Linked DNA regions of Homo sapiens. The protein of the gene in region 2 purifies or fractionates together with the protein of the main gene of each other region. This does not show direct contact. Each region holds a gene or a part of one and is shown on either strand. Other genes may lie near its edges.

What was found. The genes of interacting proteins can lie anywhere in the genome.
Region 1: the proteins of SLC25A48 (region 2) and EIPR1 purify together in Homo sapiens (affinity purification with mass spectrometry; one large-scale study listed by BioGRID and IntAct). This does not show direct contact.
Region 3: the proteins of SLC25A48 (region 2) and HELZ purify together in Homo sapiens (affinity purification with mass spectrometry; one large-scale study listed by BioGRID and IntAct). This does not show direct contact.

Annotation. Positions count from the first base shown.
Region 1 is NC_000002.12:3,255,819-3,259,318, forward strand, and holds part of EIPR1 (EARP and GARP complex-interacting protein 1), read right to left. Parts: intron 1,638-3,500; coding exon 1,481-1,637; intron 1-1,480. UniProt on the Homo sapiens protein: Acts as a component of endosomal retrieval machinery that is involved in protein transport from early endosomes to either recycling endosomes or the trans-Golgi network.
Region 2 is NC_000005.10:135,833,209-135,837,462, forward strand, and holds the start of SLC25A48 (solute carrier family 25 member 48), read left to right. Parts: upstream 1-1,454; 5' UTR 1,455-1,639; coding exon 1,640-1,685; intron 1,686-1,833; exon of another isoform or gene 1,834-2,057; intron 2,058-4,254.
Region 3 is NC_000017.11:67,186,197-67,189,696, reverse strand, and holds part of HELZ (probable helicase with zinc finger domain), read left to right. Parts: coding exon 1-108; intron 109-1,080; coding exon 1,081-1,378; intron 1,379-3,500. UniProt on the Homo sapiens protein: May act as a helicase that plays a role in RNA metabolism in multiple tissues and organs within the developing embryo.

The DNA.
Region 1 (3,500 bases), on a different chromosome or scaffold from region 2:
ATGTGCACACATACGTGTGCACAGAGACACAAGCACAAATGTGTGCACATGTGCATCACACACATGCGCACAAATGTCTATTTGCTGGGGATGTGGCAATCATTTGAAATGTGGAACTCCTAACAGTGCTGTGTGGTTTGCACAGAGATCCTGCATTCGGGCGGGGAGTGACAGCAGTGGCAATCACTCCTGGGGACTTTGGGACTCTTCATCTGCCTCCCCTTACTGTGCAAGACTGGCTGTGATTTTAATACTCAGAGCATCTCCGTAAGAAGAAATATCCACCGACGTGGTAGAAGCACAGCAAGTATAAAAATAATTCCACCACAAACTGATACACAGAGAGCATCCGGAGCCACAGACTGCCTGACCCTCAGCACTGCTCTCCTCCATACCTGACGAGGGAAACCTGAGTCGGTCCTCAGTCCCCGTTCCAAACTCCACCTCGTAAGCGAATCCCTCTTCAATTCCTCTAATAACAATTAATGGCTGCTCCTTCCGGGGCCACAGCGTACAGTTCGTAATGATTTCGGGGTACGCCACGGCTGGCCCAGCCACAGTTAGTTGTGTACACCCTGGGTCTCCCCGTGGAGATCATGACTCTCGGAGGCCGGGCCCTCTAACTTGTCACCTTGGTGTCCCTGGAGCCTGGCAGGGTTTCTGTAGCAGGTATTTAATAAGTATTTGTTGTATTAAATTTATTTAATTGGTAGAACTGACGAGACAGAAGTCACTGTACAAACGATTTGTCTCTTGCAGACACACACGCACATGTGTATGTGTTAATGCATTAAGTAAAACAATCACTATCGTTATTGTAAACACTCATAACAACAGTATGCCCCCGCAATCTCCTTTAGAAAATACGGCTTCTTAATTTTTACCAAGGCCTCAGGGCCTTCAGAGAGCAGCTGTGACTGCCGTGGAGAGGTCCCTGGGAATGACCAGTGGGTGCACACAGCCAGGCCTCCAAGCTCATGAAGCAGCGACTGGCCAGGGAGCCACGTGAATGACACACCACATGCCGGACACGGGCGGGCTTGGGCACGCAGCCCCACAGGCACACCACGCATTCATGCTTTGTCCACGGGAGGAAGGGATTGTAAGCCTCAACCTGAAGTGGTAAATAATTGCCATGTGAGTGTGAATAAGTGCATGCTGACCAAGCTGAAAAGCCACACAGCGCTCGAGGGCAGTGCAGTGCCTGACCCTTTACCCTCTGGCAGGTCCCCACGGGCAACACTCCTCTTAGATGAAGAGGAGAAAGTGGGGATGCAGGCGCGCTGGCTACATTTCTGTCAATGCGGCTAATCTAGAAAACACAGGGACTAAAATTAAAAATCAAATTCTCGCAGCTTTTTAAAAGAAAGGAGCGTTTCCGAGGTGTGGACGGTGGCTCCTGCAAAGGAATCTGCACAAGCTCCTGCACCTGGCCAACCTGCAGGCTCGTTCTGGGCGCATGAAATATGCAAAATCCTACCAGGCCATGTTGCCATGGGCTGTGTTGTCAAGGTGACAGAGCAGCTCCAGGGTCTGTGCAGTGCTGGATGAATCATCAGGGGACTCGTGGCTGCCTGATTCCAATTCCTTCGGCATCCTCCACACGGCTGCACATGTCAGGACTTTGCTGTCTGAAGCTGAGCAACAGAGCATAATGGATAATGTCAACAGAGCACGGTGTGCCCCGCATTCTGCAGACAGCACACGCACATTTACACAAATCCATAAGCAGCGCGCATCTGCTCTTTAAAATATGTACGATTGCAGGCAGCAAAGACGGAGCAGGGAGAAGCACAGCCTGAGTCGGCAGGCAGAACCCGGCACGGTTCGTAATCAGCATCCTGTTCCCCACTTTCTCTTTGTTTTAAAAACCATCATGCTGTTTCAAAAGAAAATTTAATTTCCTCAAAATCGATTTCCTTCCGTTCTTCTTCAATAGTTCTTCAAAAAAGGGAGCAAAATGGGGGACTAAAGATATAATCACCACGCACGCAGCTGGTGTCTAAGGTTGGCATTAAACGGGTTTTCTCTCCATAGCTGTATGAGATCACCTTAAATGACTATTAGGCACACTGAGCGATATTCCATTCGGAAATCCTGTCACGCATGTTATTCTGCCTCAGTTTACCTAAAGTGATGAGTATCTGGGACCGGAAGGTAATGCCATTCAGAGGCATCGCATGCTGAGGCCTGGAGCCCTGGTGGGCAGCAGGTGGCAGCCCAGCCTGGTCATGTCACCATCAATACAGCCTCTTCTCCTAGAAATGAGAGTGCCATCCTTACACGATCCTGCTGGTGGCTGCTCGGTCTCCCTGAGTCTTGATACTCTATTTTCAAGATGCTCCAGGAATCTAGAGTACCTAGAAAAGCCACTTTGTGGATAGAGACTCAACCTGCATTAGAAAGACTGGGGTCACTTGTTTCCAAGGAAGGTCTCTGATGCTCTAGAAAATTTCTCAATATGATAAATTTTTTAAAAATTAGATTTAACATTGAATTCTTGAACATAAATCCTTTCAGAATTTGCTTTCCATTTAGTTTTCAATTGAATATGTGCTAAACACCTCTCCCTTTTAAAGATGGCCTTTAATGAATAATCATAAACTAGCAAACAGGATTCAACATTAAATCATCAATTGATAACAAGTGAAGAACATAAAAATATTATATATTGCGTTAGAACATAAAAAAACATTTCATGGGTAGTACAAGAAGGAAAACAGCATGGCATTACAAAATAACAACGACCTTAGGTTACAATCGAAAATGTATCACTTACTGGTGATGATGCTCTTGCGATCTCAATATCAACTAATCGACCAAGCAATATAGCAACGAACTCAATGACAAAATATCTAACTTTGTGAATATTATTAATACCATTGTTAACCATGATTGAATGATAAGAAGTTAAAAGATTAAGACTTCAACCAGGATTTTCTGATTCCAAATTCAGTGACCATTTTATATACCATATTGGGTCTAAAAGAACATGCAATTATGGCTTAAAGAAAAAAAACTCCATCATATATTCATATAATGTTCACACTTCCAACTTTACAAAAATGGAGTGTACAGACAGTTCTGTCTACAAGGGAATTTTATTTATTTATTTATTTATTTATTTGCTGAAATTTTCAGTTACACGATCTTTCTGCAGAGCCCACGAGATTGGCAATGGCACTCCTGGAAACACAAAAATAACCAAAGGGAAAGTTGGCAATTTGGAGTAGGAAAGAAAAAAATGAATGCCTAACCCACTAGCACACACTAACCCAACAGAGGTGTAGATTATCTTAATCTTTCTAAATGGTAGAAAAATACATGTCTAATCTTACAAGTTATAGAACTAATAATGGGAGCACTAAATTGTGGCTGCACTTCAAAATGAATGAAATACACAAGATGACAAAGGCAGGGAATAGTAAAAACAGCTATTCTGTGGAAGAAATGACTAATGGCAGACACTCCCCCCCACATCCCCAACAAGTTCCTTCTTT
Region 2 (4,254 bases):
ACTCCTGCTCTGCTCCAGCTCGTTAGTAGTTCAAGCAGCAGCTTTCTGGGCCTGGGAGGCCATCCTGGGCTGCCAGGGACACTGCCTGCCAACGTAAGACCTCCTCAATTGGTGCTGACACAGGACTGAGGGGATGACAAACTGCCTGGCACCCCTTAGGTGGTCTTCCAGAGGAGTGGGTTTTGAGAATTGTCAGGCTTTCCACTTGTGGATGCATTCCAATGGTGAACTCAGTAAAAGGCCACTCTTCAGAGACCTGCATTTCTCATAGCAGCCCTAGGCATATATCCCGGGCATGACAGGGCACAGCTTGGGGTTGATGCTGATGGCAACTCTGAAGCCTCAAGACTGAGTGGGTCACCATAAGCAGCAGGAAGTTGAGGTGCCGGGATGGGGTGTGATGCTTCCACTCCTCCCTGGAACTTTGCAATACTTCCCTAGCCAGGCCGGCGACTCCATCCCGGGCTGTCCTCTCCCGATACAGGTCCACTCTCTGTGTGCCGGGGCAGGGGAGGGAGTGATGCTGCAGGAAGGTCCCTTCACCTCCAAGTCCCCACTCCTCAGTGGACAGGCCTTTGTAGGATCAAGCTTCGGTGGTCAGGCTCTGTCTTGCTTTGGAAGAAGGAGGTCTGGCTGGCTGTCGCTTCATATTAACCTGGATGACGTGACATGAATATGCCCAGTGGGACAAGAGCAGGCCCAGCAGAGGCCCCTTCCTCCTGACCATACCCTTCACCATTCTTGTCAACCTTGGGGTGTCTTGGCTGAGACCCACAGCTGAGTCCCTGCTGGAAACTAGCAGAACGCTGGGGGGCTTCGAGTCTTCTTAGGAAGGGAGGAAAGACACTCTCATTGTAATCAAAAGCCTCTCCGCACAGCAGGCCACTTCTCCAGTGAGCACGGACCCCTGGCCTGGGGCCTGGCTGAATGTAGGGTCTGCCTACAGAGAGGGAGTTTGAGGTACAGAGCACCACCTCTGCCTTCTGTTGGCCCAGGGCGGACAGTGTAGGGTGAGCCAGGGCCAGGCAGGGAGCTGGGCCCCTAGAGAGCTGTAGCTGAAAGTTAGACATGACCCTGAACCACCAGGTGCCTGCTCTAGGCACGGGGTACTGAGTGGGACATGGCTGAGATGAACAAAAAGGCATCACTGCCCAGAGTTGGGATGGGAGAGAGTCCACAGCTGATTGGAATCAGCATTGTCAGCACAGCACAGTACAGGGAGATACGCGCATTGCCGTCTCTGGATGGGCGGCTGGCACTTTCAGTTCAAAGGCGCTGAGGCTCTGAAGTTGGCAAGGAAGAGGATAACCCGGAGAAGGGAGGACTAAGAGAATTTCACTTGATGACCCTTGCCTCTTTGTGTCTGGGATGAGCCGCGCGGAGCGCACCCTTATCCACCCAGAGTGCTGTGCCTTTAAGGTCCACTGGGGGCGTGATGTCAGCCGCCCTCCGGCACTTGGAGAGGTGAGCGCGGCAGCCCGCGCAGCCGGTGACTGGGGGACTGGGTTTGGAGTAGGACCTGCGGCGTGCTCGAGACTCCGACTTCGGTCTTGCGGCGCGCTCGCGCCCGCGGGCCATGCCCCACTGACTCTAAGTGGGCACTGCCCCGGCTCCGGGAGGGCGAGACCGAGCGCCGGCCATGGGAAGCTTCCAGCTGGAAGACTTTGCGGCGGGCTGGATCGGAGGTGAGTGTGCTTACCGGGGACCCCCGGTCAGAGAGAGCGAGCCTGGCGGAGTTTGCCTCTATGCTCTGAGGAAACTTTGCCTCTGTGCGCTGCCATCCCGCTCCCCGTTGTGCGCGCAGCCTGCTTTGGGGAGTGCCCGGCCCCGAGATCCCCCTGGTGGTCTTGCAGTTGCCAGGGCTAAATTCTGAGAGCTTCACAGCGTTTCGGGCTGAGCTTCTGATTTGCTCATTAAGTTAGGATCCGTGGGACTTGATGAGGTAATGATTAAACAGCTCGTCAAAGCCCACAGCCAATGGAGGCTCCTGGCGGCGCACACACCCTTCAGTGACCTGGTGCACACCTGAATTGCGGACGTGGCTCGCGGGAACTTATGTATGAGGGTAGCGCTTGGCTGCTGATCCCGGGGCGCAGGGTGGTGGGAGCCAGGCTTCGAGATTAGGCCGGCCCAACGGGGCGTCCCGACTGGAGGGAGCAGAGCTCTCACAGCAGGGAGCGGAGCGCCGGCTGCAGGTGCCCATTGCCAGGCTGCGAGGAGCACTTATTGCCTTCAGCCGCCGCCAACCGTCAGCCATCGCCTACCTCCAAGGCCCCTTCTCCGGGCACTGTTGGGTCTGCTGATCCCTTCGCCACAGCTCCCGAAGCCACTCTTTTACTGGGCCTGGGATGGGTTGCCTGGGCGAGAGTTGCATTCATTTCCTTGCTTCTCCATTTTTCTTTCCAATTGGTCTATCCCTCTTTTCTCAGCTATTAGGAAAGGGGGAAGTTTGAGGGACTTTGCTAATTGTAAAAAAAAAAAAAAAAAAAAAAAAAAGTCTTTCTTTGGACCCATCTAAAAGGGTTATCCTAAAAGGGATGTTGGCAAATGTAGCCCCTCACCAAAGGGGTGAAAAAATAAGATGAAAAGAACAACAAACCAGATTGGATCCCAACTCCTCCCCTCCTACCTAGCAGGAGACCACCTCTCTCCCGAGACCGGTGGCTGCAGGGCCCTGCTTCACACCTTCCTGAGCAGAGGTGGCTCCTTTCACCTTGAGTAAGTCTGTTGGCACAGATGCCCTTGGGTGGGGCTGAGACCCGCCTCTCCTAACTTTCCCAGTTAGGGGGCTGCAGCCTGAGGCCCGCTGGGCATATCCAGGTCCTTTTTGACTGGACAATTATTCCACCATTCAGCGGGGCAGGCAGAGAGAGGAGACACTTCCGTGGGCTGCCCCTTAAATAAGCAGACCACCTTCGGTAGGGATGCAAATGGCTTGGTTTGAAAAATGCCCTGGAAGGTAGGGCTGAGTCAGAGTAGTTCCAAGACTCTGATACCCCTCCCCATCCCCAAACGTGATAACATGTGAACCCTCCCCGACTCACAGCAAGTAGGGGATTTTTGTGCTTTATTCTGGTCCTTACTTTGGTGATGTTATTGAAAGTAATGGCAAAAATCGCAATTACTTTTGCACCAAACTAATAACATGGCTTTTTTTTTTTTTGGCTTCCATGAAATGATGGTAAGTGTTTACTACACTTGAATACTTACTAGGTGCCAGGTATAGTTTAAGTGCTATATGTATTCTTTTAAAACAATTTTATCAAGGTTTATTTTATGTATTATAAAATTCACCCATTTCAAATGTACAATTCAATGTCTTTTAGTAATTTTACAAAGAGGTGCAACCATCACCATAAATTTGTTTTAGAACATTTTCATCCCCCAGTAAGATCCCTCATTTGAAGTTGAATGCTGTTCCCTCTCCTTAATCTCCTTTCTGTAAATTTGCCTTTCCTGTATATGTTATGTCAATTGAATCTTGCAATATGTGATCTCTTGTGTCAGTTTATGTATAGTTCTTTAATTATTATAACAACCCCAAAGAGGTAGGTACCGTTGCATCCTTATTTTACAGATGAGGAAACTGAGATACAGAGAAATTCACTGACTTGCCTAAGACCATGCATCTAGCATTGGCACCAGGATTCCAACCCAGGCTGCCTGGCACCAGAATCTGCCATCTTAATTTCATCTTAACTCTTTCTGAACAACCTTGCATAACAAAATTTTGCCCTTTTTTTGATATTATCCCCCCCCCCACCCCCCCCCCCCACACACACACACATTTTGTTTGAGATTTTACTGGTTTGTGAAGTGCCAAGGTCTGGAAATCACTGACCTTATAATCCCATTTTTTTAAATCTCAAATCCCCTGCTTTCAGATGGGTGGGCTAATAAGTGGCAGGGAGATGTTGGCCCAAGGCTGGATCTAAGCCTGCCCTGAGCTGAAGGATGTGTGCACTCACTATGGGGGAAGCCATGGAGCCTGAGGACCAGCGCACCTCCCCCCACTACTGGGAAGGGTTAATTACTGCCATCACCTCTCTGCCTCTGCCCAGTTTAGTAGGTAGGAGGGGATAAGAGGGGACAGGTGGTTCTGGACCCAGGGAATCATTGTTCTGGGATTAGCTGGTTTCTTTGTCCCTATAAATATCTAATATTCCAGGAGCCCTTAGCTACCTGGTTAAATCACCTCTACTAACACAGATATTTCCTTCCTCCTCAGTGTTCTCGGGAATTTGTCTTTGAAGA
Region 3 (3,500 bases), on a different chromosome or scaffold from region 2:
CTTAGTGAATGTATAGAAGGAGTAAAGGTAGAGCACAATCCTGACCTGTCAGTTACTGTCAGCACCAAAAAATCCCACCAGACATGGACCTTTGCTCTCACTTGTAAGGTATGAATTTTGTGCTAGTTAAAGCATAAAAGTTGTGTTTAATTTTCTGAACGTTTTTTTGACCTTTGAATCTCTGTGTTAAAGAATATTGAAAATATTTTAATCTAAGTACATTATATATAGGTTCTATATTGTACTAAAGTATATTTCTGTACTTTGATCATTAAAAGTACAATTTTAAAAATACTTTTAGATGAGATCTTTGTAGATATTTAGGGTGCTTTCATATTTATTTATTTGGTAAAGAGATCTTTGACATATTGTCTTCTAAACTTGGGACATAGGATGGGGTTCATGGCTTGTAATTAACTACTTAAAAATTGTTTATTCTAGTAGTTCTAAGATTTTTAAACCATAACAACTTGTTTTTATATTTGATATGATGAAGTCACAAATTCTGTGATAATGGGTTTTTAATATGGGGCATTTTCTGCAGTGCTTCCCATCTTAAATTATAGTAGTCAAAGTTTAAGATCGAAGCAAAGTAAAAAGTTTCTGTGAGTATGCTCAGTGGAAAAGTTTTTGTCTTTTTTGTGGCATTTCTTCTGCTGTACTTTCTGTATCTGGAGATGAAAAATCTAAGAACAGTTAGCTTCAGCCTTGAACCCAATCCAGTGCTTTCAGAGGTAACTGCCCTCTTACGAAGGCTTCCTACTTGAGGCTACATGAAACTTCTGTAGGTGAAGAGTATGGAAAGTTTGAAGGTTGATGGTTATATAGGGTGATAGCTTTTGCCACAGTGAAAAATGAACATGTCACAGGAAGAGAAGGGAGGCTAGCGATATAGCATAAATAAATAATTTTAACAACTGATTTTAAAAAACCATTCTGATTTTTTTCTTAAATGGCTATAGTATCTTAGAAGCTTGGGGAAGTAAAAGTCCCTTATGGAAATATTTTCATTGAAGAGCCCAATTACAATTGGATTTTTCACCCCCTTGTACTCAATGAATTATTTTAACTTCCTTGTAGCCTGCAAGAATGCTGTATCGTGTAGCATTGCTTTATGATGCTCATCGTCCTCATTTTAGTATCATTGCAATATCTGCCGGAGATAGTACTACCCAGGTATCACAAGAAGTCCCAGAAAACTGTCAAGAATGGATAGGAGGAAAGATGGCCCAAAATGGATTAGATCATTACGTGTATAAAGTCGGGATAGCATTTAACACAGAAATATTTGGAACTTTTCGCCAAACCATAGTTTTCGACTTTGGATTGGAACCAGTACTCATGCAAAGAGTAATGATTGATGCAGCTTCTACAGAAGGTAATATTTAGACTTTTTTCCCCCGATACAATGTGTTAAAAAGCAACATTCAAAGATATGTATTGGCCCCTGAATATATTCCATGGATAGGAAGAGAATAGTAATAAAGAAAAAAATCCCAACTTAATTGACTCATTTACTGTGTAATGGGCTTATAATGATTCACACTGTGCCCTGATTTCTTCACAGAGCCACCAGGTAAAGCTTGAACTTTGAGGTTCCCCAAACTTGTATGAGTAGATGATCAGACCTGTTTTGGTCTACCAGTTTCATTTCACAGTAAGATGGTTTTAGCACAGTAATATCTTTCAATATTAGTTTGGGTAGAATATCATTTTAATGGTAATTGTGTATATACCTACAATGTTTATTTTCATGTCCTATTGACTAGTTAACTTTGCTGATGTTAGTACATTGTTTCTGAATGAAAAGTCTTGAGTATAATAAGCCTTCATAAATCAGTTTGTGCATCCACTAGTGTTAAGGAGGCCAAGGGTGCCTTTAATCAAATCTGCTCTTTGTTTTTGGGAAGAGGTCCCTGGTTTCATCATGTAAGCATGACATAAGGAATTACTTTGTACATTGTCAATTTATTGCCTATATCTAAATTTTATGCCAAGATCCAACAGGACAAAGAAAGGACATGTTAGCCCACATTTCCTTTGCTCTTGGTTGGATTTATAGGTGTTCTATTCTATTTAACAAAAACTTTTTATTTAACAAACACTTCAAAAAGCAGAGCTGTGTGAAACTTGCTTTTGTATTGACTATAACTAACCATATTGTGGAGGACGTTTTTTACTATGTACCATAATGTCCCATTCATGAGAACCTAGAAGTAGTTTTTCTCATTAGCGAATGCTAGAATTTTATTTTTTTTCACATAGTGAAAAGGTGAAATTGGTCTGTCTTCCTCTTTACTTTAGCTGCTAGTAAGGTTGAAACAACGATGGTGCCCAAATTTAACAGTTAGGTGACATCTTCTTCTACGTGTGCTAAGATTACCCAGACTTCACTTTACCCTTATTTCCCACTGACTTTGATCCCTTTTACTTGTTTTTATTCTGTAGTATGTATTTTTGTCATCTTTTCAGTACTCTTTGGAATCAGAATAAATTAATTTCCATAGCTAAATAGATATGGTAGTTGATAAAATAAAAATAAAGTATTTGGCTTATATATATTAGCATAGTATTTGGCAAATTCTTTCTGCAGAGGGCCAGACGGTTAATATTTTAGGTGTTGCAGGGCAGGTGATCTCTGTTGCAACTACTCAGCTCTGCGTCGTAATGAGAAAGCAGCCATAGACAATGCATAAGCAAATGGGTGTGACTGTGTTCCAATAAAACTTTATTTTCAAAAACAATGGCTACATTTGACTTTCGTGTTGTAGTTTGCCTACCCCTGAACTAGTAAGTTGCTTTTAGAGACCAGACCTTGAGAACCACTAAGCAGCATCCTTTTTAAATCATAAAGAGATTTAAGTCATAAAGAGAGAACAACATACATTTCCTACTCTCAAATATAACTGTAAAGGATGTTCTTGGCTTACATGTGGGTTGTATTTTAGAAATTTGCTTGTAGGTTAGTGGCTTATAACTCAGACTCCTTTACCCATAGAAATGTTTGTAAGTGCTGTCAAGAATTCTTATTAGTTAGTAAAATATTTAATTAATAATATAAAATGTTAAATGTCTGCAGTAAAATGTAAAAGAACGATAGTATTAAAACATGATAATTAGAAAAGGTGGTGATGAAAAGGAGCTCAGGGTACTTTCATAGGCTTGAGAAGAGTAAAAGTACTTTGACTACTTCTGCCTCAGATACGAGTTACTTTTCTTGTTGGAGAAGAGCAGAGGACAAAAATCAGAGTCAAATAGAATAGGATTTGAATCCTGATTTTCGACTTATTGCCTGTGTGAGCCTGGGCAGAGTACTTAACTTCTCTGGGCTTCACGGGGAAACATCTGTAAAATGGGGCTAGTAATACCTGTCATAGATCATTGTGACAACCTGAAGCCTCGTACGACATCAGGCTCATAGTAGACGTTTAGTTAATAGTAGCTATTATGTTTATAATTAGCCTTGATTAGGATAATTTCTGGCTTATACACAAAAGGAA